Regions from separate parts of the Homo sapiens genome. Here region 2 is linked to region 1. Evidence: fine-mapped expression QTL. A gene starts in region 1. The other region holds a variant in brackets. All regions are shown on one strand. Distances are from middle to middle.

Region 1 (17,442 bases):
TCAGATGCTTCCAGCATTGACATTGCTAGCTACTGTGGGTTCCCATCTGTCTTCCTTCTCTTCTAGAGCATGACTTTAAAAAAACAAAAGAAAACATAAACAAAAACAAAAAACCATATCTTTCTTGTTTTTAAAGCATGACTGCGCTCTTGCAATCTTTGTCTAATTCTGTGACTTTGGCCCAGCCGTGTTCAAAGTCCACCATTCTGAAATGGAACCCAGAATTTGGTTTTGTGATGTTTGATCTTTCTTCTTCTCCCTTTTCCCACTGTAGTGTTTCCTTCTGTTTTTTTTTTTTTCCACTTAAGAGTCTCAATCAAGTTGATGATGTGTAGACAGTCCTCAGTGACCATTTATTTTATTTTTTAGTATAAAGTAAAGGGCTACAAGTGCGGCTATGTTGCATGGATAGATTGCACAGTGGGGAAGACCAGGTTTTCAGTGAATACATCACGAATAGTGTACATTGTACTCACTGAGTAATTTCTCATTCCTCATCACCTTCCCACCCTTCTGAGTCTCCAGTGTCTATTATTCCACTCTCTATGTCCATGAGGACACTGTGTTTAGCTCCCACTTATAAGTGAACATGCAGCATTTGACTTTCTGTGTCTGAGTTATTTCACTTAAGATAATGCCCTCCAGCTCCATCCATGTTGCTGCTAAAGACTTGATTTTATTCATTTTTTCTGGCTGAGTGCATGTGTGAGTGTATTATATAAACTGGATATACACAGATATATATATATCTCACATTTATTTAAAAACACACAGAATGGCCAGATATAGATATATGTATCTCAGATTTCTTACATATATAAATATGTGTGCGTGTGTGTGTATAATCTCTCATTTTCTTTTAACTTTTAATTTTTATTTTAAGTTCTGGGGTACATGTGCAGCATGTGCAGGTTTGTCACATAGGTAAACGTGTGCCATGGTGGTTTGCTGCACTTGTCAACCCACCACCTAGGTATTAAGCCCAGCATACATTAGCTATTTATCCTAATGCTCTCCCTCCCCCTACTCTTACCCCCCAACAGGCCCCAGTGTGTGGTGCTCCCCTCCCTGTGTCCATGTGTTCTCATTGTTCAGCTCCCACTTATAAGTGAGAACATGGGGTGTTTGGTTTTCTGTTCTTGTGTTAGTTTGCTGAAGATAATGGCTTCCAGCTCTATCCATGTCCCTGCAAAGGACATGATCTCTTTCCTTTTTACGGCTGCATAGTATTCCATGGTGTATAAGTACACACTTTTTAATCCAGTCTATCATTGATGAACATTTGGGTTGATTCCACATCTTTGCTATTTTAATCTCACATTACAGTCATGGCTACGGGCAGCAGAGTGAGACCCTGTCTCTAAATGAATAAATAAATAAATAAAAATAACCTTGATTCCTTGCTAGTTGGAGAGAACATTGCACTGGTGGCTAGGACCATTCATGGTGATCCTTACTAATCTTGTCCTGGAGAGATGCTTATTAAAGGAGGGTGGAAATGGCTAAATATGGTGAATAAAAAGACGATATTCTCAATTCATCCATGTTTCTGTCTCTGTCTCACCTAACTATTGGGAAACTCTGGATTTTCTCGGTGTGAACTTTATGGGAATACTAAATAGTATATTAGGCAGTGGAGTTACAGACATGAGAACCAGAATGTGATATTTTTTAAATGTCACATTGTGGGCAAGTCTAATATAGAGGTATTAATTGGAAGTTGTGGGGTAGAGAAAATGGACCACTAAACGGTTAGAACGTGGGCTTCACCAAATGCCCCAAGGTAGTTAGTCTTTAAGGATATTACATTTGAGAGCCATATTGGAGGGTTGAAGTTGAGAAGATGGCCTGGGGAATTGGCTAATTTACACACACACACACACACACACACACACACACACACACACAGACTCCTGAGAATCAGTCCTTATTTTGAATCCCAGCTCTTCAATTTACCAGCCTTGTGAAAGTCTTTTAAGCGATATGAAACCCAATTGCTTCTCCTAGAAAACGGAAGAGTCATCATTAACCCTTTGAGGCAAGCGGGGTGAGATATTTTGAGGATCAAATAGTAACAAGTGTGTGGAAATGCCTGGGGAATTATAAAGCTCTGCTAACATTATGGCGGTGCTATTAATCTTTATTATATATTATTTGTCTTGTGGGGCAGTTCCTCAGCCTATAAAGCCTCACCAACTTGGAATCACTTGAGGATTCTAGGCAGGGAAACACCAGATTGTACCACTGGTTGCATTCTTGTAAAAATATCTTAATTACAGCTGCTAAACATGTCTTCCTCCACCAAACAAGTCTGGCCTCCATGACTATCACAGGTCTATGGTGTTTCTTGTTGTGCTTTTTAAGGTAGATACCACAGTTGATCCAGTATGTGTAAAAACAAAGTGCTTTCCAGAACAGTACCACACATAAATTAGATCTGATACAAAGCAGTTATTGAATATATGCACATTCATTGATTACTGATTTACTTTACTGACACCAGAATAGTAGGTTTTTGTTGCTATACCAACGTAATTTCTTGTAACTCTGCCATTAGAATTAACCTGAGCTGCATAGACCATGCATAGAATTTTGCCTTATTCTTTGTGAGCAAATATCACTTATTTGCAAATACGTTTAAAGAATGTGCTGGGCTGGCCAGGCACAGTGGCTCACACCTGTAATCATAGCACTTTGGGAGGCCGAGGCGTGTGGATCACTTGAGGACAGGGGTTCAAGACCAGCTTGGCCAACATGGTGAAACCCTGTCTCTACTAAAAATACAAAAAATTAGCCGGGCATGGTGGTGCACACCTGTGGTCCCAGCTATTTGGATGGCTGAAGCATGAGAATTGCTAGAATCTGGGAGGCAGAGGTTGCGGTGAGTCGAGTCGCTGCACTACACCCTGGGCGATAGAACAAGACTCTGTCTCAAAAAAAAAAAAAAAAAAAAAGAATGTACTGGGTTTACTGGGTCACCACAAAACAATCTAGTTAAGCCTTTGGACCATTATCTGCCTAGCTATGAGGAAAACATTTGCTTTGCAGATGCTCTTATTTTATTCTTCTCTTCCTTAGATAATCTAAGAAGAAGCCATGAAGCAATTGCTGTATGACTGGTGAGCTGGCAAATTCACGAACATTCATCACTCTCCATTTCTAGAGAGAAGGATTCTTTGTCAAGGTTTTCTCTATCCTGGAGGACTTGGGTTAAATATGTGCTTAAAATGTCCTTTATGAGGGTGGATTATCAATTATTCCTCATATTTTATTCAAGCTGTGCTTTCTATTTTTTGTCTTTTATTTATTTATGTAATTTTTTTCTTTTTTATAGAGATTGGGTCTCACTATGTTGCCCAGGCTGGTCTCAAACTCCTGGACTCAAGGGATCCTCCCATCTCGGCCTCCCTAAGTGCTGGAATTAGAGGCATGAGCTGCTATGCCCAGCCTACTGTCTATATTTTCAAGCCATAACTAAATTCACACTGGTTTATGATGTTCATATCATCTTTGTGGATTTGTATTTTTATTATTCTATAATAGTCTTGCCATTCTATATTAATGATTTTTCAATTGTAATTTTCTTCTGGCTGATGTTATTATTGTTACAAGTTTCTTTTGATTACTACTTGGCTGGCCTACTTAGATGTTTACATCTTTTTAGTTTCAAGTTTTGTTTGTCATTAGGTTTTAGGTGTGTCCTTTAAGAAAGACATAGGACAGATTTTTAAAAATTAGTATGGGATTCTTTAATAGGCAGGTAAACCCACCCACATTTGTTATAAATATTAAGATAGTTGATCTTATTTCTGTCATCTTACATGCTATCTTATATTTTCAAGATTCTCCTGTGGTTTTCTTTTTTCCCCTCTTGCTTTTTACGGGCTGCATTAAGGGTTCTCTGTTTCCTGGCTGATATGGTTTGGCTGTGACCCCACCCAAATCTCAGGTTGAATTGTAATAATCCCCACGTGTCAAGGGAGGAGCCCAGTGGAGATAATTGAATCATGGCAGTGGTTTCCCCCACACTGTTCTCATGATAGTGAATGAGTCTCATGAGATCTGATGGTTTTATAAATCGGAGTTCCCCTGCACAAGCTCTCTTGTCTGCCTCCATGTAAGATGTGCCTTTGCTTCTCCTTTGCTTTCCACCATGATTGTGAGGCCTCCTCAGCCATGTGGAACTGAGTCTATTAAACCTCTTTCCCTCCCACCTGTAATCCCAGCACTTTGGGAGGCCGAGGTGGGCAGATCACGAGGTCAGGAGATCGAGACCATCCTGGCTAACACGGTGAAACCCCATCTCTACCAAAAATACAAAAAATTAGCCGGGCGTAGTGGTGGGCGCCTGTGGTCTCAGCTACTCGGGAAGCTGAGGCACAGGAGAATGGTGTGAACCTGGGAGGTGGAGCTTGCAGTGAGCTGAGATCGTGCCACTGCAGTCCAGCCTGGGCAACAGAGAGAGACTCTGTCTCAAAAAAAAAAAAAAAAAAATTACCCAGTCTCAGGTATGTCTTTATTAGCAGTGTGAGAGCAGACTAATACACTGGCCCATCCTTCTCCCCTCAAGTGGCCTGGTAACTGTACCTCATGTTTCCCTTAATCATATTAACATCATTATTAACTTACCAAAATATGATGGTTAATCTCTATTTCCAGCTTCCTTTTGAAGAAAGGAAAGACTGGAGAATGTTTGAACACTACAGTCCTACCCCCCCCGCCCCACCTTCCTCCATGTAATTACCGCTTAGTGAATTATTTACTCCTTTCCAAAATAATAATAATTAATAATAGTTTCTGTCAATGCGTATTTAATGTTATCAACATGTTTTATCTCTTTTCAACATCTTTTCTTATGTCTACCCTTTTATTTTTATTTATTTATTTTTGAGACAGAGTCTTGCTCTGTCACCCAGGCTGGAGTATAGTTGTGTGATCTCAGCTCACTGCAACCTCCACCTCCCAGGTTCAAGCGATTCTCTTGCTTCAGCCTCTCTAGTAGCTGGGATTACAGGCACATGCCACCATGCCTGGCTAATGTTTGTATTTTTAGTAGACAAGGGGTTTCACTATGTTGGCCAGGCTGGTCTCCAACATCCAACCTCAAGTGATCCACCTGCCTCGGCCTACCAAAGTGTTGGAATTACAGGCATGAGCCACTGCACTTGGCCTGTCTACTCTTTCTTTCTAAGATAAGTTTGCCTTTTGCTGAAAATATTCCTTAGTAGATTTTCATCAAGAGTTTTTGGGTTCATGTACAATCCAAATGCCTGTAATCCCTATTCATTCTTCAATGATGTATTAGAAGGGTTTGGAACTCTGAGTTCAGAGTGACTTTTGTCTCAGCACTCTGGAAGCAATGGTCCCTGGTCATCAGGCATCCACTGTGGCTGTTGGGAAGTCTCTTGACATTCCAGTTATCCTCCCATTTTAGGTTATCTGTGGTTGTGTTTAAACCAAGTGCCTCTGTCTCCATCATTGCCCTTTACTGAGCTAGGTCTAACTGGAGGTTTTTAATTTTTTTAACTGGGTTCAGTCTGAAAACTTATGTCTGTCTTCAATCCTGAAAAATTCTTAGCCAAGATATCTTTCAATGTATCATCTCCCTATCCTCATCCTTAAACCCTCTTAATAGTAGGCTGGGACTTTTTGTCCAAAACCATAGAATGTACAACAGCAAGAGTGACCCTTAAATTAAACTATGGACTTTGGGAGATAATGATTTCTCAATGTAGGTTCATTGATTGTATCAGATAATGTACCATCTTGTTGCCGGGTGTTGATAATGGAGGAAGCTATTACATATGTAGGGGCAGGGGATATGTGGGAACTTTCTGTACCTATGCTCAATTTTTCTGTGAACCTAAAACTGCTCTAAAAAATAAGTCTATTTAAAAAAAAACATGAGCTTGAGATTTAATAAAATAACTACTATTAATATTTAAAAAAGAAATAGGTCAGACACTGTGCCTCACACCTGTAATCCCAGCACTTTGGGAGGCTGAGGTGGGAGGATTGCTTGAGCTCAGGAGTTCAAGACCAACCTGGCCAACCTAGTGAGACCCCCATCTCAATTTAAAAAGTTTTTAAAATAAAAATATAAACATGAAATAGAAGGGAAGATGGATGGATACAAAAGGATTTATGATATAATATTTGAGGTTGAATTAGGAGGACTTGGAATTGATTGAATGGAATTTGGAGTTGGGGAACCTGACTGAGGGGATATTGGTCTTCAATTCATAGTGATCATTTTTGATCAATGGCTGTTGTGAATATTTCAGGATATTGTACAATTCAGCTGTTACAAGAGGGTTCTTTTACAATCTAAAATTTAGGCCGGGCGTGGCGGCTCACACCTGTAATCCCAGCACTTTGGGAGGCCGAGGCAGGTGGATCACCTGAGGTCAGGAGTTTGAGACCAGCTTGGCCAACATGGCGAACCCCATCTCTACTAAAAATACAAAAATTAGCCAGGCATGGTGGTGCACACCTGTAGTCCCAGCTACTCAGGAGGCTGAGGTGGGAGGATCGCTTGAACCTGGGAGGCAGAGGGTACGGTAAGCTGAGATCGCGCCATTGCACTCCAGCCTAGGTGACAGAGTGAGAGACTCCGTCTCAAAAAATACATAAATAAATAAATAAATAAATAAAACTTAGTAGATCTATTCCAACATTGACCCATTGAAAAATAAAATAAAATTTAGTAAAATCTGCCTTTCATTGAACTAATTGACAAAAAAAATTTAGCAGAATCTCAAAAATGTTAAATTTTCTTTCATAGATTTTAAATGATTTCTAGATTGTTTTTGAAGTGGAATTTTTTCCACCTGATTTCTTCTATGGACATATGTTCTTGATGAACCAAAGGAGAAAACAGTTTCTATACACACATGTGTTCCATCCCCAAATATCAGTGTTTCAGCATCTAGTTCTGGGCTTAGATCTAATAAGTTACTGGAGCTTCTGTTATAATTGCCCCCACCCCGCTCCATGTGGCTTAGAGAAAACCTTTGAGGTTATAAAATGTATTAAAAAGTACAACTGAACACTTGAAAAATCAAAACTGACTCGCTCTTAGTCTCTGATTTTCCATTTTGCTTACTTTTTTTTTTTTTTTTTTTTTGAGAGAGAGAATAGTTTAATAAAGCTCTATCAGCCAGGCGCGGTGGCTCACGCCTGTAATCCCAGCACCTTGGGAGGCCGAGGCAGGTGGATCACGAGGTCAGGAGATCAAGACCATCCCGGCCAATGTGGTGAAACCCCGTCTCTACTAAAAATACAAAAAACTAGCTGGGCGTGGTGGCGGGCGCCTGTAGTCCCAGCTACTCGGGAGGCTGAGGCAGGAGAATGGCGTGAACTCGGGAGGCAGAGCTTGCAGTGAGCCGAGACTGCGCCACTGCACTCCAGCCTGGGTGACAGAGCGAGACTCTGTCTCAAAAAAAAAAAACAAAAACCCTAAAGCTCTATCACTCAGCTTCAAAAAAAAAAAAAAAAAAAAAAGAATACGTGAATACTGACAGAGTTAAACCTTGGAAAGTTTCTTTTCTAAAAAGGAAACTTTAAAAGTTTTTATTTTTAATTGACAAATAATAATTGTTTATAGGCTGGGCACGATGGCTCACACCTCTCAGCACTTCAGGAGGCCGAGGTGGGAGGATCACCTGAGGTCAGGAGTTCAAGACATGCCCGGCCAACATGGCGAAACGCCATCTCTACCAAAAAAAATACAAAAATCAGCTGGGCATGGTGCCACACACACATACACACACACACACACACACCCCTATAAGCCTCATAAATATGAACAATTATTATTATTTTTTGAGACAGAGTCTCTCTCTGTTGCCCAGGCTGCAGTGCAGTGGCGCGATCTTGGCTCGCTGCAACCTCCGCCTCTCAGGTTCAGGCAATTATCCCTGCTTCAGCCTCCCGAGCAGATGGTATTACTTTTTTTTTTTTTTTGAGACGGAGTCTCACTCTTGCTACCCAGGCTGGAGTGCAGTGGTGCAATTTCAGCTCACTGCAACCTCCGCCTCCTGGGTTCAAGTGATTCTCCTGCCTCAGCCTCTGAAGTAGCTGGGACCACAGGCGCGTGTCACCATGCCCGGTTAATTTTGTATTTTTAGTAGAGATGGGGTTTCACCATGTTTGTCAGGCTGGTCTCAAACTCCTGACCTCAGGTATTCCACTTGCCTTGGCCTCTCAAAGCACTGGGATTACAGGCATGAGCCACTGTGCCCGGCCTTGGTTACATTTTTATTCAATAAAGTAAACAAAAAAGTTTTTTTTGAGATAGGGTCTTGCTCTATTGTCTAAGCTGGAGTGCAGTGGTGCATTCATAGCTCACTGCAATCCTGACCTCTCAGGCTCAAGCAATCCTCTCATCTCAGCCTCCTGAGTAGCTGGGATTATAGGAATGCATCACTATGCCCAGCTATTTTTGTATTGTTTGTAGAGATGGGGTTTCACCATGCTGCCCAGGCCAGTCTCAAACTTCTGGGCTCAAATGATCCACCCGCATTGGCCTTCCAAAGTGCTGGGATTACAGGCATGAGTCACAGCACCCGGCAAAATTCAATTTTTAGAGCTTACCCTCAACTGTAACCCCTGTTATAAATTTTAAGCCTCTGATGTCACTAAAACAATATCAAAAGATGTTATAAGAGTTAAACCTCATCATGCTTGCAAAATGAATTGGTAAAATATGATGCCATATTCGTATAGAACAATGGTCTCCAACATTTTTGGCACCAGGGTCTGGTTTTGTGGAAGACGGTTTTTCCACAGACAGGAAGGGGGTGCAGGATGGTTTCAGGATGATTCAAGCACATTACATTTATTGTGCACTTTATTTTTATTATTATTACACGATAATATATAATGAAATAATTATACAACTCATCGTAGTGTATGATCAGTGGGTGCCCTAAGCTTGTTTTCCTGTGACTAGATGATCCCATCTGGGGGTGATGGAAGACAGAGACAGATCATCAGGCATTAGATTCTCATAAAGAGCACACAACCTAGATCCTTTGCATGCACAGTTCACAATAGAGTTCTCGCTCCTATGAGAATCTAATGCTGCTACCGATCTGACAGGAGGTGGAGCTCAGGCAGTGATGCAAGCAATGGGGAGCGGCTGTCAATACAGATGAAGCTTCACTCATTTGCCCACCACTCACCTCCTGCTGTGTGGCCTGGTTGCTAACAGGCTACGGACCAGTACTGGTCCATGGCCAGGGGATTGGGGACCCCGGTATAGAACATTAGTTTTTGTTGTTGTTGTTTAATCTAGTTTCTGAGTAAGACAACACAGGTACGTTGTACAGTGAGAACTGATAACGAATATCACTGTTTCATATGTTAAGTTATCTAAAATGCAAATGTTAATTGATAGTGCCTGGTTTTTTGCTTGCTTGTTTGTTTGCTTATTTCTAAAAATGCTTTCAGGAGCTGCTGGCTGTCAGTGTCCCTGTGCTGTTTGTTTTGCGGTGTTGATGGCACATTTATGACAAGAAACGCCAGACCCAACATTGTCCTGCTGATGGCAGATGACCTTGGAGTGGGGGATTTGTGCTGCTACGGTAATAACTCAGTGAGGTAAAGATGGACTCTGACCCCCTCCCTGTATGTGGGAGTCTCCCTTACCACAGTGTTCACGTCTTTGCCGTTGCAGAGAAGGGTTTCTGGAGAGAAGTCATTGTCTGATGTTATCGGCAGGAATAGCAGAGGTCACTGGGGAAAATTGCAAAATGTCAGGAGACCACTTAACCTCCCAGTTTCCTTAGATTCTAGCTGTTGGTGGTGGCGTTTTCATTGTTGGGCAAAATTTACATTTAAAAATTGGCCTTTTTTGATCAGGCATGGCGGCTCAAGCCTATAATCCCAGCACTTTGGAAGGCCAAGGTGGGAGCATTGCTTGAGCCCAGGAGTTTGCGATCAGCCTGGGCAACACAGGGAGACCCCGTCTCTACAAAAATAATAAAAAAAAAAATCTACTGGGACATGGTGGCGTGTGTCTGTGGTCTCAGCTACTCAGGAGGCTGGGGCAGGAGGATTGCCTGAGCAAGGGAGATTGAGGCTGCAGTGAGCTATGATCCCACCACTGCACTCCAGCCTGGGTGACAGAGGGAGACTCTGTTTAAAAAAAAAAAAAAAAATCACCTTTTAACCATTTTAAAGTGAACAATTCAGTGGCATTTGGTACATTCACAGTGTTGGACAACCGTCACCCCCACAAAGAAGACCCCCATTTCCCATCCTATCCCCATGCCCTGTTAACCACAAATGTACCCTCTGTCTCTATGGATGTGTCTCTTCTTAGAATTTCATATACAAGTAATCATATAAAGTATTTATTTTCTCAGGCTGCCGTGACAAAGGTCCACAGACTGGTTGGCTTAGATAACATCAGCTTATTCTCTCACAGTCCTGGAGGCTGGAAGTTCAAGATCAAAGTGTGGGCAGGGCTGGTTCCTCCTGAGGCCTCTCTCCTGTCCTTGTAGATGCCGTCTTCTCCCTGTGTCTTCACAGGGTCGTCCCTCTGTGTGGGTCTGTGTCCTCATCTCTTCTTCTTATGAGGTGTCTTAGTCTATTTCAGGCTGCTATAAAAGAATACCATAGACTGGGTGGCTTAGAAACAACAGACATTGATTCTCCCACAGTCCTGGAGGCTGGAAGTCTGAGATCAAGGTGTCTGCAGGGCTGGTTCCTCCTGAGGCCTCTCTCCTGGGCTTGGAGATGCCGTCTTCTCCCTGTGTCCTCACAGGGTCATCCCTCTGTGTGTGTCTGTGTCCTCATTTCCTCTTCTTATAAAGACCCCAGTCCTATTGGATAAGGGTCCACTTTAACGACCTCATGCTACCTTAATCACCTCTATAAAGACTCCATCTTCAAATACAGTCACATTCTGAGGTCCTGGGGGTTAGGACTTCAGCACAGGAATTTGGGAGGGACACAATTTAGCTCATAACATATGGTAAGTGGTGTTTGGTGACTGGCTTCTTTCACTTAGCGTGATGTTTTCAAGGTTCATTCATATTGTAGCATGCGTCAGCACTTCATTCCTTTCCATGGCTGAATACTTTTTCATTATATACATACACCACATTAGTCTACAGTTTTAAAAATATCTTCCTTGAATTACTTCTAAAGTCTCTGGTACCCGGGGCTCTTTATTTCTCTACTCTCTATCGATAGACCAATCTGGCTCTTGTAAAAATACATAGCATCTTTTAGTGTGGATTTAAATAACATTGTTTCTTCTTGGAATGCAGATCACAGTCTAGTCCTATATCTTAAGCATATATTTGTTGATTGAAAGGCATTGGTCTTCTTCTTCTTATTTTCTTTCTTTCTTTCTTTCTTTCTTTCTTTCTTTCTTTCTTTCTTTCTTTCTTTCTTTCTTTCTTCCCTTTTTCTTTTCCTTTCTTTCCTCTATCTCTTTTTTTTCCTTTTATTTTTAAGACAGGATCTCATTCTGTCATCCAGACTGGAGTGCAGTGGCATGATCTTGGCTCACTGCAGCCTTGACCTCCCAGGCTCAAGTGATCCTCCCTCCTCAGCCTCCTGAGTAGCTGGGACTATAGGCATGAGCCCCCACACCTGCCTAATTTTTGTGGTTTTTCTTTTGTTTTGTTTTTTTTTTGTTTTTTGTTTTTGTAGAGGTGGGGTTTTGCCATATTGCCCACCCTGGTCTGAGCTCAAGTGTTCAGCCCCTCTTGGCCTCCCAAAGTGCTGGGGTTACAGGCGTGAGCCATCACACTCAGCCTCCATTATCATCTTTCTGTGGGATTATGGAAAAAAAATGTTGTACCCATGGGATCAAGATTGGATATGGTTTAGCTTTTAGGAGAACAGGCACGTCTTTTTTTTAACCTATAAGTTTTACAAAATTTTTGCAATGTATTAGACAAACAAAATGGGAAATAAATTAAACTCCAAAATGTCACAATTTGGTCATAAAATAGGTCAATTTTACCGTAAGATATATATTAATGGGAGGCTGAAGTGGGAGGATCATTTGAAGCCAGGAGTTTGAGACCAGCCTGGGCAAAATAGCAAGACATGTATCTCTGCATAAAATTTTAAGGCCAGGTGTGGTGGATCACACCTGCAATCCCAGCAGTTTGGGAGGCTGGGGAAAGTGGATCACTTGAGGTCAGGAGTTCAAGACTAGCTTGGCCAACATGGTGACACCTCATCTCTACTAAAAATATACCACTGGGCGTGGTGGCTCATGCCTGTAATCCCAGCTAGTCAGGAGGCTGAGGCAGGAGGATCACTTGAATTGGGAGGCAGAGGTTGCAGTGAGCTGGGATCGCACCACTGTACTCCAGCCTGGGTAATAGAGTGAGACCACGTCTCAGAAAAAAAATTAAATTAAATACAAATTTAAATAAATTAGTAGGGCATGGTAGCGCACACCTGTGGACCTAGCTACTTGAGAGGCTGAGGTGGGAGGATCACTTGAGCCCAGGGAATTTAAGGTTGCAGTGAGCTATAACTGCACCACTACACTCCACCCTGGGCAACAGAGCAAGAGACTGTCTCTTAAAAAAATATGAAACACATTAAAATTTTACTTAATCTAAATTACCCATTAATTTTAGGTCCTTGATAAGAAGAAATTGGCTAATTTTTCCATTGAAATACATTTTTTTCTCAGACTCATAAAACTGTATACCGAGTGACCTGTATTCATTTGTAATAGTTTTGACTAAAGATATATTTTAAACTTATGTTTCCATTTGCTTCTAACCATCAATGCATATAAGGAAATAGACAGATTAAAGTTTTAAAAAGATGGATTTTAGGTTTACCAGAAATAGAGTCAACTTGACCCAAAATAGAATAGCTTTGATCCTTGATCATTGTATTGAGAATTTTTAGAAACTCACCTGCTGAATTCTTCTTTGGTCTGCAGCACACCTAATATTGACCGCCTGGCAAGTGAAGGAGTGAGGCTTACCCAGCATCTCGCAGCTGCTTCCATGTGCACCCCAAGTCGGGCTGCCTTCCTGACCGGCCGGTACCCCATCAGATCAGGTGAGGCAATAAAAAGGCAGCAACATTTCAGTCTCACCAGAATGCATTCTAATGATTAGTTTTTGCAAATCTTTATAAGAATTCTCAAAAGGTCACTCAGAGTATTAGGGATCTAAATTCAAAGGTGGTTGTTATCCCTGGGCAGCTTAAATATGTGTGCCTCTCACCAGGTACCACTGCACCTGCTCATCTCTGTGCATATAGCGACAGGGTTTAGGCCTCTTGGGGGCAATTTGCCAACTTATGGTCAACACTCCCATTTTCAGGTACTTGTGCTAAGATTTCTCAAGAGACCCCTGATGTCTTTAAGCTAGCAGAGACCATGCAGTGGTTCTGAGATAAGTGGATCAAATCCACCTCTGTGGATGAGATTGGAAAACTAGACACAGTTGGGAAAAAAGGTATAACTGAGAAAACAAAAAGGAAATGAAACTTTTACATACTCCCTTACTTGACCCCATCATTTCAAGATTTAGACTTACCAAGTTGATATAACGACAATTAAATGTGTTCCTTTGCTGCTTAGCTTAGGATCAATACCTACAAACATCCACTCAAGATCAATATTATGAACAACAATTTTTATACCCAGCTAAAATATAGTGGTGCCCTTAGACACTATTGAAGTGTTCATGGTTATCAGACTCTATGTGAAATATCGTGTCATGCTGTTGCATTTTGTTTAATTCTAGTATTTGCTTGTCATAATTTTAGTATACCTGCCTTCACAGTTTAATTTTTCAGTGAAAAATTTTTCTGTATGAATTTTCTTCCTCCTAAGTAGTAGATTCTCATCCAATACATTCAAGGAATGAACTAATTAGGTTAATGAGAATTATACTAAAATTAAGAGTAAACATTAAAAGTTTTTGTCCCATAAATATTGATTTATTATTATCTTTTTTTGTTGCCTAATGACCTTCTTTCATAATTCAAGGTTCTCCATTTTGTTCAAAATAGTTTGGTTTCTAGATAAGCAGTCTCTATATAACACAGTACCGTGTATGAAGAGGGATAAAGATATGAATTTGTATGAGTTTCCAAAAAAAACTACACTTATAATTTCAGGATTTCAGGATTTTTTCTTTTTTTCTTTCTTTCTTTTTTTTTTTTTTTGAGACAGACTCTTGCTCTGTCATCCAGGCTGGAGTGCAAGGGTCTGATCTCAGCTCACTGCAATCTCTGCCTCCCTGGTTCAAGTGATTCTCCTGCCTCAGTTCCTGAATAGCTGGGATTACAGTCATGCACCACCACACCCGGCTAATTTTTGTATTTTTAGTAGAGATGGGATTTCACCATGTTGGCCAGGCTGGTCTTGAATTCCTGGCCTCATGTGTGATCCACCTGCCTTGGCCACCCAAAGTGTTGGGATTACAGGAGTGAGCCACCATGCTCTGCCTAATTTCAGGGAATTTTAAGTATTGATTATGGTGAAATAAAATTTATTTTTAAAAATTAAGAAAAAAATTAGGTGATTGGTGGAGAGATTTCAAGTCATTGCCATGTGTATATTTTTAATCATTTGACACAAACGGTTCAGTTTAATTCATTCTACTTATCAAAAATTTCAGCAAAACAGTTCAACAGCAAGATAATGGTCTAATGCTTCCCTTAATAAAACTGTTTCTCTTTCCTATCAATGACACTATCTAGAGTCTACTTTCTTCTTCTTCCAAGGTAGGATCCTTGAAATATACTTTTTTCTTTTGAGATGGAGTTTCCTTCTTGTCACCCAGGCTGGAGTGCAATGGCATGATCTCAGCTCATTGCAACCTCTGCCTCCCAGGTTCAAGTGATTCTCCTGCCTCAGCCTCCTGAGTAGCTGGGATTACAGGTGCCTGCCACCAAGCCCAGCTAATTTTTGTATTTTTAGTAGAGACAGGGTTTCACCATATTAGCCAGGCCGGTCTCCTGATCTCAGGTGATCCAACCACTTTGGCCTCCCAAAACACTGGGATTACAGGCGTAAGCCACTGAGCCCGGCCTGAAATTATCATTTATTTATTTCTTGCTGATCTTCACTTGTGGTTTTCTTGTGAATTCCTTTTAAACTATAGGTGTATAATATTGTCCACCAGTATAAATCTACATAAAATTATATGGAGGCCAGGCACGGTGGCTCACATCTTTAATCCCAACACTTTGGGAGGCTGAGGTGGGTGGATCACGTGAGGTCAGGAGTTAGAGACCAGCCCGGCCAACATAGTGAAACCTCGTCTCTACTAAAAACACACACACAAAAAATAGCCAGGTGTGGTGGCACACATCTGTAATTCCAGCTAGGGAGGCGGAGGCACGAGAATTGCTTGAACCTGGGAGGCGGAGGTTGCAGTGAGCCGAGATGTTGACACTGCACTCCAGCCTGGGTGACAGAGTGAAACTCCATCTCAAAAAAAAAAAAAAAAAAAAAAAAAAAAATATATATATATATATATATATATATATATAATATATATATGTATGTGTATATACACACACACACATATGAAAAAGAAATTGTCACTCCTACACTTCTTCATTTCAGATTCTCAAGGATACTTTTAAAAATGTATTTATACCCAGCTAAAATGCAGTAGTGTCCTCAGATACTATTGAAACATTGAAGGTTAGCAGCCTCTATATGAAAAACTAACGAAGGTTATTTGTTGTTAGTCTGAAATTCAAATGGATATAACTAAGTGTCCCGTATTTATTCTGGCAACCCTAATTCCAAGGGAATGTTTGCATTTAGCAAGTGAAAAAAGGAGGGTCAAGGACGTACAGCCAGAAAGCAACAGAAAACTTGGGGAAGAATGGCTTTGAGGAGGTGCGGGAGGAGAGGACTTTAAGCATGTCGGGATAAATTCGGTATTAGCAAAGACTATGGTGCTAACTTATTGACTTCTGTGAATTTAGGGATGGTGTCTGCCTACAACCTGAACCGTGCCTTCACGTGGCTTGGTGGGTCAGGTGGTCTTCCCACCAATGAAACGACTTTTGCCAAGCTGCTGCAGCACCGTGGCTACCGCACGGGACTCATAGGTATGGCGCCGGAACTCTGCCCGTGGAAACGTGATCCTGCAGCCTCTCTGTCATCGTGTCTAAGGTGTTTCCGGGGATGTTGGCTTTGTGCGCGCCAGTTTGACCGACTTCTCTTTGAGATAAGACACTTGGAGAAGGAAATGATCACACATTGATTGAGCATGTGTAGAATCGAGGGCATAGTATTGGAAAAACAATGAGAACAGAAAGCAAACAAGTGTATCCAAAGTTGCCACTAAAATGGAATGTTGTGTTGGAGGGATACGATGTTTGTGACACCATTATTAGCAGAAAAACCAGTAAATTTGTAGAGAAGTACTGTTGAAATGGGAAACTTACAGCATTAAGAGTTGTCAAATGGAGGCAATTGCTGGTCGACTTAGATCACTTAATATTCTATGCCCTTTTGGCGGGGGTGGGGGTTTGGGGCGGGGGGACATGAGCTTGTGAGGGAGCCTTTCACCGAAAAATAAGTTTGTAGAATTCCAGTCCTAGAAGATAGTCCTCTAAGAATAACTTGTGTGATCAAATCCTTTTGGGAAATGCTACTCAAAAGCATTGTACGGTCCACTATTTTTGAGGATTCCTAATGTGAATTGTAAGCCACAGCTCCGAGATATCCCCAGTTAAAAAAAAGGTTAAGAAATTTTCTATCAGTAGGGCATGTATTCCCATGCAACTCCCAGCAGCGTCCTGTGAGTGGGAATTCTCTAGATTAGCTTTGAGCAGCGTTCTTACATCATTAGAGCACGGGATTCAGATCTGACTCTGCTATTATTCATTAATGTGACTCAGGCTTCTGAATAAATCTAGATAGCTGGGCACAGTGGCTCAGACCTGTAATCCCAGCACTTTGGGAGGCTGAGGCAGAAGAAGGCCAGGAGTTCAAGACCAGCCTAGGCCACCATAGCAAGACCCTGGATCTACAAAAATAAAATGTTAAAATTAGCTGGGCATGGTGGCACGCACCTATAGTCCCAGCTACTCAGGAGGCTGAGGCAGGAGAATTGCTTGAGCCAAGGAGTTCGAGGCTACAGTGAGCTATAATCATGCCACTGCGCTCCAGCCTGGGCAACAGAGCAAGACTCTGTCTCTTAAAAAAATAATCTAGACAATGTGTTTTTTATTCATAATAAAGGGTCTGGGAAGTGTTGAATATAATAATGTGTGCGGACAAATCAGAACGTGACCTGGCCCCCTAGAGTATGTGCTTGATAAAAGGAATTACTTGCATTATCAGAATCGTTTGGTTCTTGATGAAATTCTTTGGCTACTTTGTCATCCCTAGCTTGAGGACCTAGAAGAGGTGTTCCATCTATACATAAAATCTCGGTTACCTTTCAGTGAGATGGAATAAGAGGGTCGGAAGGC
Region 2 (14,925 bases), 19 kb after region 1:
TCAGCCCAGGAGTTTGACACCAGACTGGGCAATATAGTGAGCTCCCATCTCTACAAAAAATGTACAAAATTAGCCAGGCTTGGTGGCGTGTACCTGTGGTCTCAGCTCCTTGGAAGGATAAGGTGGAAGAATCACTTGAGCCCAGGAGGTTGAGCCATGATTGCACCACTGCACTCCAGCCTGGGCAACAGAGTGAGACTTTGTCTCAAAATAAATAAATACATAAAATGCAGAACACAAAAAGCAAGATGTAAATGAGGGGAATTTATTTCTCTCTTGGGGTAGGCAGGCTACAGATACAGTGAGGTTATCTTGTTCTCTGCCATCCTTTGTGAGCAGCCTCATGGCCCAAGGTAGATGCCAAAGCTCCAGCCATCAGACTTATGTTCCAGGAACCATGAAGGAGGTGGAAGAAAGAAAGAAGGGAAAATGGAGAGTAAGGAGCATCAAATCCTTACTGTGGCACATCTGAGTCTGTCCTTAAGATATGATTCTTCTGAACTCATACCTAAAAGAACACTTTGAAACAATAGATGAGGAGAATTCATACTTTTTAACCCATTCAACAAAGATTAAAAGATTTATTAAGCTGCTACTTTATGTCAGATGCTAAACTGGACACAAGAGAGTATAAAATGAACTGCGTTAAACATTTTTGTTGTTGTTGTTAAGACAGGGTCTCACTGCGTTGCCCAGGCTGGAGTGCAGTGGTGTGATAATAGCTCACGGCAGCCTCCACCTCCCAGGCTCAAGCGAACCCCTTGCCTCAGCCTCCTGAGTAGCTGGGATCACAGGTGTGCCATTAAGCACAGCTATATTTTTGTATTTTCTGTAGAGACGAGGTCTTGCCATGTTGCCTGGGCTGGTCTCACACTCCTGGGCTCATGCAATGCTCCTGCCTCAGCCTCCCAAAGTGCAAAGAATATAGGCATGAGCCACTGTGCCTGGCTACATGAAACATTTTACTGGGAACACAAATGTTCTGTTATCCTTCATTCCTCCTCATATCCTTTCAACATAAATCTTGTGGTATTTACGACTCACAGGAGTGGTATTGTCATCTAAAGTACATAGAAAACCTCCGCCAGCTATTATGAGATCTTTTCATCAGTGCAGAATCGCATTTAAATGATGGAAATGACTTCATATTTGTGAAGGTAATTTTGGTAACTTTCTACCCCTTAGGTACAAAAGGGAACCTTTTCTCCTCTTTTTTTCCTTCCTGCACGTACATACTCCACTCATCTCCAAAAAGAAGTTTGTTGGGCGCAGTAAATATGGCAGGTATGGGGACAATGTAGAAGAAATGGATTGGATGGTGGGTAAGTATTCAGTAACAGAACTGTAAATATCTGAAGTACGGGCTACAGAAAAACAAATCTGTACTAACTGTCTCAAATTATGTCCAGCCCCTTGCATAGCATAGATACCTGAAAAGTATCTGTTTCATCCCTTAATTGGATTAAAAGCTGGCTTTTAATTGTTCAGCAATACCAGTGAAATATATTCCCCAAGATAAGTCACAGTTTGTAAATACAAGTTTTCCCATCTTTAAAATAAAGACAGCCACTTTTCTGAAAAACTCATTGGCAAGATAAAGAAAGCTGCACTGTAAAGTATATTGTAATTCCTGGCCGGGCACGCAGTGGCTCACACCTGTAATCCCAGCACTTTGAAAGGCCAAGGCTGGCAGATCACTTGAGGTCAGGAGTTCTAGACCAGCCTGGCCAACATGGTGAAACCCCATCTCTACTGAAAATACAAAAATTAGCCAGGCATGGTTATGCGGGCCTGTAGTCCCAGCTGCTCGGGAGGGTGAGGCAGGAGAATCACTTGGATCCAGGATGCAGAGGTTGCAGTCAGCCAAGATGAGACCACTGCACTCCAGCCTGAGTGACACAGCGAGATTCTGTTTCAAAAAAAAAAAAAAAAAAAAGAATATTGTAATTTCAATTCCCAATTATTTTGATGGATATAAAAGGGAACGTTATTCTGATTAGTCAGTTCTACAGGAAATACATAGAAAATTGGGATGGGGATTTAACACAACTAAAGCAACTTATTTCAAAGGCATAGTGTTCACTATAAAGAAATGCTAAGGATAATAAATGAGCAGGTGGGAAGAGTTACTGTATGCATTCCAGAATAATAAATAGCTGTGCTAGTTGAATTGCATTTGCCCACCCCCGCCTCTATGTACGTGACAGAGTTGTCCTTCCTCTCAGCGATGGTGTTTCATTTTGGAATACAGTACTTTTCTTCTTCTTCTGAGTGCAAACTTCTGAAAACGGTGCTCTGCCGAACCATTGAAACGAACAATCTCCCAGTTATCAGCCGCCTCTGTTGACTTATATGGAGTGCCTTTGAAAGAAACAGAGCTATTTTAATTTAAATGCATTTAAGGGGTGTTAATCAATCACATTTTATTATAAATAACTTTCTTTTCTCTGAAAACCACCATCTAAGTGAGCTATAAAATACTAGTTAAAATTACTGAAGAACTAGTGGTGTCGGATAGGACAAAGAGGGGAATCTTGTCATGGGATAAATTTCTCTTGTATATTTCCACTATGTGTGTTTACCTCTAATTATAGGTACCATTGTAACATTTACTGTCTATATTTAATCCCAAAGAGGAGATAGAATACAGAGAGGGGCCAGGCGTGGTGGCTCATGTCTGTAGCCCCAGCACTTTTGGAGGTTCAGGCGGGAGGATCACTTGATCCCATGAGTTTGAGACCAGCCTGGGCAACATACCAAGGCTCCATCTCTACAAAAAAATACAAACATTAGCCAGGCATGGTGTCACACGCACGCCTTGTAGTTCCAGCTACCTAGGAGGCTGAGGTGGGTGGATCACTTGAACCTGGGAGGTGGGGGTAGCAGTGAGCCGAGATTGCACCACTGTACTCCAAGACCCCGTCTCAAAAAAAAAAAAAAAAAAAAAAAAAAAAAAAGAGGCCGAGTGCGGTGGCTCACGCCTGTAATCCCAGCACTTTGGGAGGCCGAGGCGGGCGGATCACAAAGTCAGGAGATCGAGACCATCCTGGCTAACACGGTGAAACCCCGTCTCTACTAAAAATAGAAAAAATGAGCCGGGCGCGGTGGCGGGCGCCTGTAGTCCCAGCTACTCCGGAGGCTGAGGCAGGAGAATGGCGTGAACCTGGGAGGCGGAGCTTGCAGTGAGCCGAGATTGTGCCACTGCACTCCAGCCTGGGCGACAGAGCCAGACTCAGTCTCAAAAAAAAAAAAAAAAAAAAAAAGAATACAAGGAAAGTCAGTGCTGCCAGGCTGCCAGTAAGGCATTTAAGCAGAAATGGGGAGAAAAAAGGAATGTGTTAAAGGGAAAAACTTATGGGCTTAGTTAAAGGGAACTAACCCTGACATCCAAACCCTTTTGAAGCTTGCTGAACTAAAGCTAAGCTCTGTATTTCTTAATTTAATCTTTGCTGTGGGATGTGTATGTGTGTGTATATATATACACACCCAGCTGCAGTTATTTTATTTGCACGGTATAAATTACAAATCACTTTTATGCATAATACTATAGTCAGATTTAATATGAATTAAGCTATATACACACACACACCATATGTTATATACATATATATATACACACACCCCATATGGTTTATATGTATACACAAGTTATGTTTTATACATATACACACATAGCACTGTATGTTGCATATATACACATTTATTATATATAGTTTAATTCCTTGGTAACGAAATACAAACACTGAAAGGTGTTACAGTTAAAAATAGCTATAACACTGTAGCCTTTATGGAATTATATAATTGGGATTTTTTTTTTTTCTCTGCTTCTTTTGAAATCGCTTACTATAGTTGTACTTAGTCAAAGGACAGTTTCCCGTAAAGGGATTTTCTGTTAAAGTCTATATCTGAGTGTTTATCACTAAGAAATAATTATGTTTGTTTTACAGTATATGTAAATACATGATGAAGACGTGTTACAAAAGCTAGCAATTGCATTATTAAATGGCTAATATTATTTGACACAGGAGAAATGATGAGTAGCTATTTTTCTGCGTAACATCTCCCAAATATTCTGAGTTTTCTCCGTCATTTCTTATAAAAATTCTACCAAAATAAAGACATATTGAAAGTCAGACAGGTATCTCTGTGGGTATTATTTTACTATTTAACAATATGAGTATAAAACTCAAAGGTTTAGTAACTTATTAACTTTACTCAAAAATAAGCCATAACAATGCTATACTCATGCAAATGCAAATACAACGTGCAAAATGAACTTAATGAATCTTCGGGAATTCAGTAACATTTTAAACTTTCCAATGAAAGAAACTTGTGCCTATTAAAAAACACTTTTAGTCCTTTTTTTTTTTTTTTTTAAGACACAGGGTCTCACTCTTTTGCCCAGTCTGGCTGGAATGCAGTGGTGCGATCACAGCTCACCACACACTTGACCTCCTCGGCTCAGGTGATCCTCCCACCTCAGCCTCGTGAGTAGCTGGGACTAAAAATGTGCACCACCATGTCTGGCCAATTTGTGTGTGTGTGTGTGTGTGTGTGTGTGTGTCTCTGTGTGTTTTGTAGTGGAGTTTTGCCATCTTGCCCAGGCTGGTCTCGAACTCTTGGGCTCAAGCAAACTTCCCACCTCGGCCTCCCAAAGTCCTGGGATTACATGTGTGAGCCACCAGGCCCAACCTTAATCACTTTTCATTATTGGTTTCTTTCCAGGTGTCTTTGGTAGGAGGTCTTATAAGTGACCTATTACCATTAGTATTTATATATTCATATGCATCTGTGTGTTTTCACTTTAGACACTATACAGACAATTATTTGCAAATATATTTGTTCTGGAACAGAAAAAGAATTTGCAGCTACTATATTTGCACAGTATAAATTACAAATCACTTTTATGATTTTTTTATACTATAGCCAGATCTAATGTGAATTGATAATTTACATATAATTATGCTGTTCCCAGAAAGCCTTTACAATCTTTCATCTTACAAACCCTGGGCTTTAAAATATCTTAATTTCTAATTATAGCATTTCTAAAAAATAGTATATGTCACTTCTAAAACAAATCACTGAGTTTACGTATAAACAGTTTTCTGTGCAGCTAGTTAAGCTAGTTACATTTTCTTTTATCTTTGAATGGGACAAGAGCATAGCACAGAGATGATCTAGTGTAAACTAGAAATGCAGTGTGACCTCAGGCCCAGGACGATGTTATCTGTTGATTAGCAAATGCTCAACAGACATCAGAAAGGAAATGAATGTTGTTTGGAATTTTGCTAGAACAGCTTTCTACTTATTATTTTAAAAAACTGTCCTCCTGAGGGATTGTCAACACATTAAAGACAGTGTCTGCTGAGTCTAGCGCAGCATTAATTGTCATTAGATCTTAACCATAACCCAAACAGCAAGAATAACCTGCAATTTCCATGTAGACTTCAGATAGCAGCCAGGACAGCAAGTCTCTAAGGGAGGTGGTGCTGTGCCCTGGAGTACGGGGATGGCTTTGCTCATATGTTCCTGGAGGTGTCATTTTGCAAACTGTATTTTTTTAAATTAATGTTCATCGGTTTATTTAACTGCTGGGCCTTCTTGGCACTGTCTATTTGAATCGTTTGGGGCAATGATGACCTTATGTATTATTACACGATTTGTATAATAAAATAGATTTTATTATATATTCAATAATAAAATAATGAACACATTATACAATAAAATTGTATAATAAACCAGTACTTTATATATTGTATATGAACTATTCTACATTTTAAATTAATATAATTAATGTATCTAGTATATTTAATATAATTTATATAATTACATTAATATAATAAAATTAATTAAAGTAATATGTGACACATATCATTCAATTATATAAAATAATATAGTATATATTTATATAAAGATATAAATTTATGATAAAATTTAATATATTAATTAGACATATATTATAAAATTTAATATGTTCATTATATATTATACATTTATTACATATACTCATATTTTATCTTATAGTTAATATATTTTCCTATGTCAATAAACATATATTTTTACATATTGCATTGATATACAAAATACTATATAATAAAATAATAGTTACATGTTATTATATAATTACATAACAATTTTTACACAATGATAAACTATTATATAATGATATGTTTCTAGTATTGTAAAGTCATATGGTATAATAATACATAGTATGTATTGATTGTACATATTACAATATATTTTGTTCTATTCCATAATTGATTATATTTTAATATATAACAATTCTTTATGCATTTTTAATACATCATGTTATATATTAATATGTATTTGTAAGAAATATGTACTATATATCATACAATATATAATAAATATATAATTAGTAATTCAAATGTATAAAAGTATGTATTATAGTAAATATAGCATATATTATACATTATTACATTATATATTAAATATTTTAACTGCTGGATATAATATATATTATATACACTATATTACGTACAGTTTAAAATAGTATGTATTACAATATTATATGATTAATTATACAATATCGTGTAGTGCAGAATAACATTGAAACGCTATGTGTAATAAATACATAGTAGCAGATATGTAATAAAGCAGTGGTGATCTGCATCAAGAGGTCAACGTCTTTGTGTCTCTGACCCTCTCCAGGTAAAATCCTGGATGCCCTGGACCAGGAGCGCCTGGCCAACCACACCTTGGTGTACTTCACCTCTGACAACGGGGGCCACCTGGAGCCCCTGGACGGGGCTGTTCAGCTGGGTGGCTGGAACGGGATCTACAAAGGTGATTGTGTGTAGAGAACCAACGCCTGTCCATTTTAAATCAGTAGTCTCTATTGGCTTTGTGTTTGCTTGAATTCATTTGCCATGATGTTCAGATATTTTGATGTGAGTTAGACTCTTATTAAGCTAGACCGAAAAAAAAAAAAAGCTGCAAATTTTGGGGCAGTTTCCAAGAGCTTCAAAGTAAAATGTTTGAAGCAACGCCAACCCCAGGAGACAGCACAGCATCTCAATGACCATCTGTGGCAGATGTCCCAGCCTCCGCACGATTGACATTTGAGGCTGGAGGATTCTCTGGCTGGGGGCATCCTGTGCCGTTGTAGGTGTTGAACAGCGTCTGTGGGCTCCACCCACACATGCCAGTAGCACCCACCGCAGAGCAGCAACAACCAGAAATGTCTCCTGATATTGCCCAGTGTCCCCTGGGGACAAGGTCATTTCTAAGTGAGAAGTGCTCCTTTAGATTAATCCTCACTTGGATTCTCAGATGCAGGTTTTTAATTCAATCACACCAATGATGCTATTCATTATGCTTTAACTAGTGTTATGTGGATCAGAAAAAAGAGTTTTTCATTTGACTGGGGTGCCTAGCTCCTCATGGCCAGCAGATTCTTCCAGCTCACTTTGATAGACTTCATGCCGGGTTGTTCAAGAACTCCATGGCACCCACTCTTAGGCATCACCAAAGGCATGCCAACAGAAAGAATAATTTAAAAAAGAATTCTGCATTCGCTATTTTCCCCCTACCCGCTAACCTTCCAAGTAAAACAAAAAAACTAAAAGGGTATCAAAATCGTCATCATTATAAAATCAGAATGTTTGAACTTCCTTATATTTCATTAAAAAGTTCTGTGTGTGTGTGTCTTATATATGTATTTTCCTGGAGGTATAATCACTATGTATATAAATTCACCGTATTAATTGTATGTAATATAATATAGAATCATATATATTCATCATATGTGATATATAATCCTATATATAGTCACTATGTATATATAGTTACTATATTCATTACACATAACACATATAATCCTATATATATTCGCTATATTCATTATATATAATACATGTAATTTTACATATTTACTACATATAATATACATAATCCTGTACACATTCACTATGTATATATAGTCATTATATTCATTATATATACACACATAATTCTATATATTTACTATATTTATTGTATAGATCATTATATATAATTTTATATATTCAGTATATATAATATAATATATAATACTATATATATTTACTATGTCTATAGTCACATATTAATTATATATAGTATATAGAATTCTATATATTCACTGTATAGAGTATACATAACCCTACACATATTCACTATATGTACTCACTATATTCATTATATATTACACATAATCCTATATATATATTCACTATATTCATTGTATATATATAGGATTGTGGATACTGGATTATATATTGTAAATTAATAGAAGTGAGCTCCTGAAAGCATTCACCTCCTCTGGCTTGTCATGTGGACTTGCTGTAGTCATAACTGTTAATTAGCAAAGACTAAATTGGTGCTAAACCTAGTAGAAAAAGTGAGGAACAGATCTGAGTCACCATATATATGCCATCTAACGAAGTGTGATTATTACAGTCATGATGATTCTAACAACTGTACCTATTATATATTATAATAATTATTATAATTGCATGAGTATGTGTGAGTGTAAAGCCCCTGTCCTTAAAAAGCACACATAACCCTGGAATAGGACTGGCAAAATTGTTGTGAGCATTTCTCAGGCTTTGGGACAGGATGCCTGTTTCTCAGGGTGCTTCCTGTGAAGCGATGAATTCAATGGATAGAGAGATTTAGATCTCCTGGGTAAGCAATGGGTTTTGTTCTAGTCTAGTTACACCTCGCAGCTCTGCCCCACAAAGATACAGGTTATTAAATACGATGAAGAAAACATCAGGATGGCTTTATGATTGTATGTTAAAAGCACATAGATTTGGTTCAGTGAGCTTGTCGAGTTTTTCTTATAATAAAGAATGGTGCTACTTGGGAGGCTCAGGAGGGAGGCTCGCTTGAGCCCAGGAGTTGGAAGCTGCAGTGAGCTATGATTGCGCCACTGCACTCCAGTCTGGGTGACAGAAGGAGACAGTGTCTTAATTAAAAAAAATAAAAATAAAAAAAGAATGGTGCCAAGAAGCTGAGCTGCCTTTCAACACTGGTTAGACTGGTTAGATCAGTGAATGTGTCAGCAGTGAATTTTACCTCATTTTCTGCTAGAGGCTTCCGGTTTTGTGTTTCTTTGTAATGCTGCCTGTCAGACAGGTGCGCACGTAGAAGACATTCAATGAAAATTTCACATAGGAAGAGACCTTTTCCTCCAGAGAGGTTCCTATTTTTTCTTAAAGAGTCTAGACATATGGTCTTGACACTGGCATTTGGCATAGGGCCATTTTTCTATTCTGTAACAACC[G/A]CCTCAGTCTCATGATTGATCTTACGGCAAGGGCTTCATTTTTGTTTTGTGCTCAGAAACACCCAAGGGGACTTTTGTCTAAGAAGTGATTCTCAACTCTGCCTCTGGCCATTTTTCTACTCACACTCCTCTCTTTCTTCCTCTATATGGGAAATCACGGGGTAAAGTTTTTTAGCTTGTTCCTCAAGGATCATTATAATGTGGATAAAACCTGTATTTTTCTTTTCTTTTTCTTTTTCTTTTTTATTTTTTGGAGACAGAGTCTCACCCTGTCACCGAGGCTGGAGTGCAGTGGCACAATCTCAGCTCACTGCAATCTCCACTTCCTCGTCTCTGATCCCCCGACTTCAGCCTCCCGAGTAGGTGGGACTACAGGCATGCACCACCATGGAGTGCAGTGGCGTGATCTCGGCTCACCACAACCTTCGCCTCCTGGGTTTAAGCGATTCTCCTGCCTCAGCCTCCCACGTAGCTTGGATTACAGGCGCCCACCACCATGCCCAGCTAATGGTTTTGTATTTTTAGCAGAGACGGGGTTTCACCATGTTGGCCAGGCTGGTCTTGAACTCCTGACCTCAAGTGATCCGCCCACCTCGGCCCCCCAAAGTGCTGGGATTACAGGCGTGAGCCACCGTGCCCGGCCAATATGGTTGGGTTTTAACTCATCTTTGGTTGTGTCGTAATCTTTGGTTTTAGGTGGCAAAGGAATGGGAGGATGGGAAGGAGGTATCCGTGTGCCAGGGATATTCCGGTGGCCGTCAGTCTTGGAGGCTGGGAGAGTGATCAATGAGCCCACCAGCTTAATGGACATCTATCCGACGCTGTCTTATATAGGCGGAGGGATCTTGTCCCAGGACAGGTATGGAAACAGTGTTTGCTCCTAACCTAGGGTGATATATTTGAACATAAGTGGATATACTTGATAATTCTATGTGTGTGTGTATGTACATAGTATATTACTTAATTATCAATATTCTGCCCATAGGGCCAGATGTCTTTCTCCCCTTGGTGCGTGGTGGAATATTTTGTTTTCTTCTTAGAGTATACCTTAATATCCTTTGTCATATTACACTTATGCCTGTGTGTGTTTGACTGTTCTCATGGATGGGATCTGATTCTCATACATCATCACATCCCTCACAGCTTCTAGACCATTATGCAATTAAGTGTTAAATGATTACTGAATAAAAACATGTATGCCTAGAGCAGGTGCGGTGGCTCGTGCCTGTAATCCTAGCACTTTGGGAGGTCAAGGCTGGCGGATCACTTGAAGTCAGGAGTTCGAGACCAGCCTGGCCAACATGGTGAAACCCCCATCTCTACTAAAAATACAAAAATCAGTCTGGTGTGGTGGCACGTGCCTGTAATCCCAGCTACCTGGGAGGCTGAGGTGGGAGGATCGCTTGAACCCAGGAGGTAGAGATTGCAGTGAGCCGAGATCTCGTCACTGCACTCCAGCCTGGGTGACAGGGTGATGCCCTGTTTCAAACAAAAACAAAAACGAAAACAAAACACGTATGTGTAATTGCATGTGTGCTAAATGATATTATTCTTTCTGGTTTGCACTTTGTCTATGAGCTTATTTTTAATTTAATTTAAATTTATTTTTTTTGAGACAGAGTCTCGTCCTGTCAGCCAGGCTGGAATGCAGTGGTGTGATCTCGGCTCAGTGCAATCTCTGCGTCCCGGGTTCAAGTGATTCTTCTGCCTCAGCCTCCTGAGTAGCTGGGACTACAGGCGGGCGCCACCATGCTCAGCTAATTTTTGTATTTTTAGTAGAGATGGGGTTTCAGCATGTTGGCCAGGATGGTCTCGATCTCTTGACCTCGTGATCCACCCACCTCGGCCTCCCAAAGTGCTGGGATTACAGGCACGAGCCACCAGGCCTGGCTTTGTCTATGAGCTTTAAAATGAACAAATACATCCTGTGCTTTAACGATTTAATTCCATGTATGTGGGGTGATATCTATTCATTAAATGTGAAGTTTTATTGGAATCAAAAGGGCGTAAATAGCTTAATTTTTCCAATCCACAACAGTAACTCATATTGTCTTGCAAGGTATCAGGATAATAGTTCTAGCTGTTCTCTTCTTCCATGACCTCAGAAAATGAATGTTTTGTTTCTCTTTCTTTTTGTTATAAAATGAGGGAAAAGGAGAAAGTTTTAAGAATTCCTTCTTCCGCCAGGCGCCGTGGCTCACGCCTGTAATCCTAGCACTTTGGGAGGCCGAGGCAGGCGGATCATGAGGTCAGGAGTTCGAGACCAGCCTGGCCAACATGGTGAAACCCCGTCTGTACTAAAAATACAAAAATTAGCAGGGCATGGTGGCGTGTGCCTGTAATCCCAGCTACTTGGGAAGCTGAGGCAGGAGAATTGCTTGAACCCGGGAGGCGGAGGTTGCAGTGAGCAGAGATCGCACCATTGCACTCCAGCCTGGGTGACAGAGCAAGACTCCATTTCAAAAAAAAAAAAAAAGAAAAAAGAAATTCTTCCTCTTTATCTTTCGCCTCCTTCTCTTCCTCCCCTTCCTTTTCCTCCTCCTCCTCCTCCTCCTCTTTCTTCTGCTATAAAATGCGTGACTGAACCATGCCTCTCTCATCACCTTCTACACACCCCCTTCTCTCCCAAGAGTGATTGACGGCCAGAACCTAATGCCCCTGCTGGAAGGAAGGGCGTCCCACTCCGACCACGAGTTCCTCTTCCACTACTGTGGGGTCTATCTGCACACGGTCAGGTGGCATCAGAAGGACTGTAAGTATGAAGGCTGTGGACACGTGGAAAGACGATAAGGGCCCGGTTCCGGTCTCCTTCGTCTCCTGGCGGAAGCTGCACCATGTGCAGATATTGCCCAGCTATGATGGTTCTTTTTCGCTGAGAAAGCCACATAAACAGTGCACTGCAGTAGGATTTTATTTTATTTTATTTTATTTTGAGATAGGGTCTCACTCTGTCACCCAGGTTGGAGTACAGTGGCGCAATCTCGGCTCACCACAACCTCCACCTCCCAGGTTCAAGTGAGTCTCCTGCCTCAGCCTCCTGAGTAACTGGGACTACAGGCACCTACCACCATGACTAGTTAATTTTTGTATTTTTAGTAGAGATGGGGTTTCACCATGTTGGCCAGGCTGGTCTCGAACTCCTGACCTCAGGCGATCTGCCCACCTCAGCCTCCCAAAGTGCTGGGATTACAGGCGTGAGCCACCGTGCCTGGCCTGCAGTAGGATTTTAGAGAGATGTGTTTGTGAGAGAGATTTGTGCCCAAAGGGTTTTATTTTAAATTTTTAAAATATTTATAAAATAGAGACAAGATCTTACTATGTGGCCCAGGCTGGTCTCGAACTGCTGAGCTCAAGTGATCCTCTCTCTTTGGCCTCCCACAGGTGTGACCCACCACAGCCGATCCACTCAAAGCATTTTAACTTAGGGAGGTGAGTGCTGACACAGACAAACCAATGCCATTGCAATATTTTCATGACTTAGATTTCCCGAGAGAAGGGGATATGCCCTACCACACAGGTTCACGGTGGGAAGCACCAGGGCTTGGCTTGGAAGCAGAGGCAGGAAGGAATGAGGAGCCCAAGCAACAGCCTTTATTATTAGGCTTTCCAAGGGAAAGGTCAGGCAGGGCAGGGTGAACAGCTTCACACTGGTAGTTTGAGTAATTACAGTAAGTTTGGAGCAACAGAGACTGCCCCTAGCTGCCTGGTACCCGGTGCTGGGTTGATTTAGGACAGAGAAAATATCAGCTTACTGTGTGAGAGTTAGATAAAGGAGGTGGATGCTTGCATAGGTAGGGTGTGTTCCTAAGTGAGTTGTTACTATTTGTATTAGTCCATTCTCACGTTGCTAATAAAGACATACTCAAGACTGGGTAATTTATAAAGGAAAAAGTGGTTTAATGGACTCACAGTTCCACATGGCTGGGGAGGCCTCACAATCATGGTGGAAGGCACATCTTACATGGTGGAAAGCAAGAGAGAATGAGAGCCAAGCGAAAAGGGAAATGCCTTATAAAACCATCAGATCTCGTGAGACTTATTCCTTACCATGGGAACAGTATGGCAGAAACTGCCCCCATATTCAATTATCTCCACTTGGCTCTGCCCTTGACATATGGGGATTATTACAACTCAAGGTGAGATTAGGGTGGGGACAGAGCCAAACCATATCGCTATTTTTAGGAATCAGCTAGTCCTGGGAGGAGCAGTCTTTCCCCAAGTCTATGAGGCCCCTCAAGCTGTCAAAATACTAGCCTGGCACAGTGGCTCACAGTTGTAATCTCAGCACTTCAGGAGGCCAAGGTAGGAGGATTATTTGAGCCCAGGAGTTTGATATCAGCCTGGGCAACATTGCAAGACCCTGTCCCTACAAAGAAAAAAAAAAGAATTAGCCAGGTATGGTGGCATACAACTGTAGTCCAGCTACTCAGGAGGCTGAGTGGGAAGTTTGAGGCTGCAGTTGGCAATGATCGTGCCACTGTACTCCAGCCTGGGCAACAAAGTGAGACACTGTCTCAAAAAAAAAAAAAAGTCAAAACATTATAGGATACAGAAAATTAAGACAACATGATTAATGTGTGTGTGTAAGTATGCATTAGCTTGTGTGAATGTATACATGAGAGAGAGAACAAGAGAGAAAGAGAGACTATGAATACCCACAGCTTAGGGATGACTGAAGTAATTATTCTAGCAACGAGGAGTAAATTCTTCAACATGACCTGCCGGGTGGTTGCTTATCTCCACCTTCCTTCCTTTCTAACATCCTAGTGATTGTTTCTGTCCCACATTCGTGCTATGGAAGTCATGCAAACAAATATAAATTAACAAATAGCATCGTTTGCCTTAGACCTGTAAAGAAAGGTCTTTTGGAGTCATTGCATGAAATTCCAGAATTCTTACTTGGTTGGATTTAACTTTATTTGCAGGAGGAATTTTCTCTGATGGGATCAGTCACTTGTGGTGTGATGTATCTTCATTTTGATGTGGATAGTCCCACATAAAACAATTAAAAAAACAAAAATAAGTAAATAAAAATCTATGTTTTTAAGATTCTATATGAGTGCAGGACATGATCAATGATAAATAAAACAGCCCCGTAAACAGCACAAGCCTCCCAAATTTAACTATAGAGGATTATACAGTAGAATTTTTTGTTATTATTTTTTCTCATCATAATTTCAGAAGTTGGGAGCATGGGGCTGACACAGTGCTCAGTGCCACGGTCATGGGACCAGGGTTCTTTTTTTCTACTTGGCCACCTCTGACATGCTAGCTTTCATTCTTGTGCATCTCACCTCATGGTTGCAAAGTGGCTGCAGTTCCTCCAAGCATCACACCTGCACTCCATGCAGTAAGGAGGGAAAAAACCAAAGGCGGTAAAGAATCCAGTTAGATGATTTGATCCTATTTTAGTAGGAAAGCACAGCTTCTCTGCAAGACCCCACCAGTAGACTTCGGTATAATCCTCATTTACCAGAGGCTGGGGAATGCTTATATTTTCTATCTAAAATTGATCTCTGCAGCCAGGCATGGTGGCACATGCCTGTAAATCCAGCTACTCGGGAGGCTGAGGTGGGAGAATCACTTGAACCCAGGAGGCAGAGGTTGCAGTGAGCTGAGATGTTGCCACTGCACTCCAGCCTGGGCGACAGAGTGAG

Alleles and levels. Alleles are on the strand shown, and positions count from the first base shown. SD is a standard deviation of normalised expression in the study named.
With allele G in place of A in region 2, the expression in esophagus mucosa of the gene that starts at base 9,445 in region 1 is higher (moderate effect, 0.67 SD a copy in GTEx).

What was found. PIP is the estimated chance that this variant, and not a neighbour inherited with it, causes the effect. A credible set is the group of variants that fine-mapping cannot tell apart.
Region 2: its variant is the best candidate, but not a certain one, in a credible set for the expression of ARSH in esophagus mucosa (GTEx, PIP 0.74).

The regions. Positions count from the first base shown.
Region 1 is chrX:2,997,102-3,014,543 of GRCh38, forward strand. ARSH (arylsulfatase family member H) reads left to right here and starts at 9,445. Exons shown (of 9, transcript NM_001011719.2): 1 at 9,445-9,603; 2 at 12,929-13,050; 3 at 15,946-16,071. The coding sequence starts at 9,512.
Region 2 is chrX:3,017,349-3,032,273 of GRCh38, forward strand. It overlaps ARSH (arylsulfatase family member H), which reads left to right. Exons shown (of 9, transcript NM_001011719.2): 5 at 1,186-1,322; 6 at 6,673-6,807; 7 at 9,965-10,127; 8 at 11,899-12,020. Among named protein-coding and RNA genes, the nearest start is that of ARSF, 17 kb to the right of the region's middle. The variant G/A (reference allele first, on the strand shown) is at 9,269.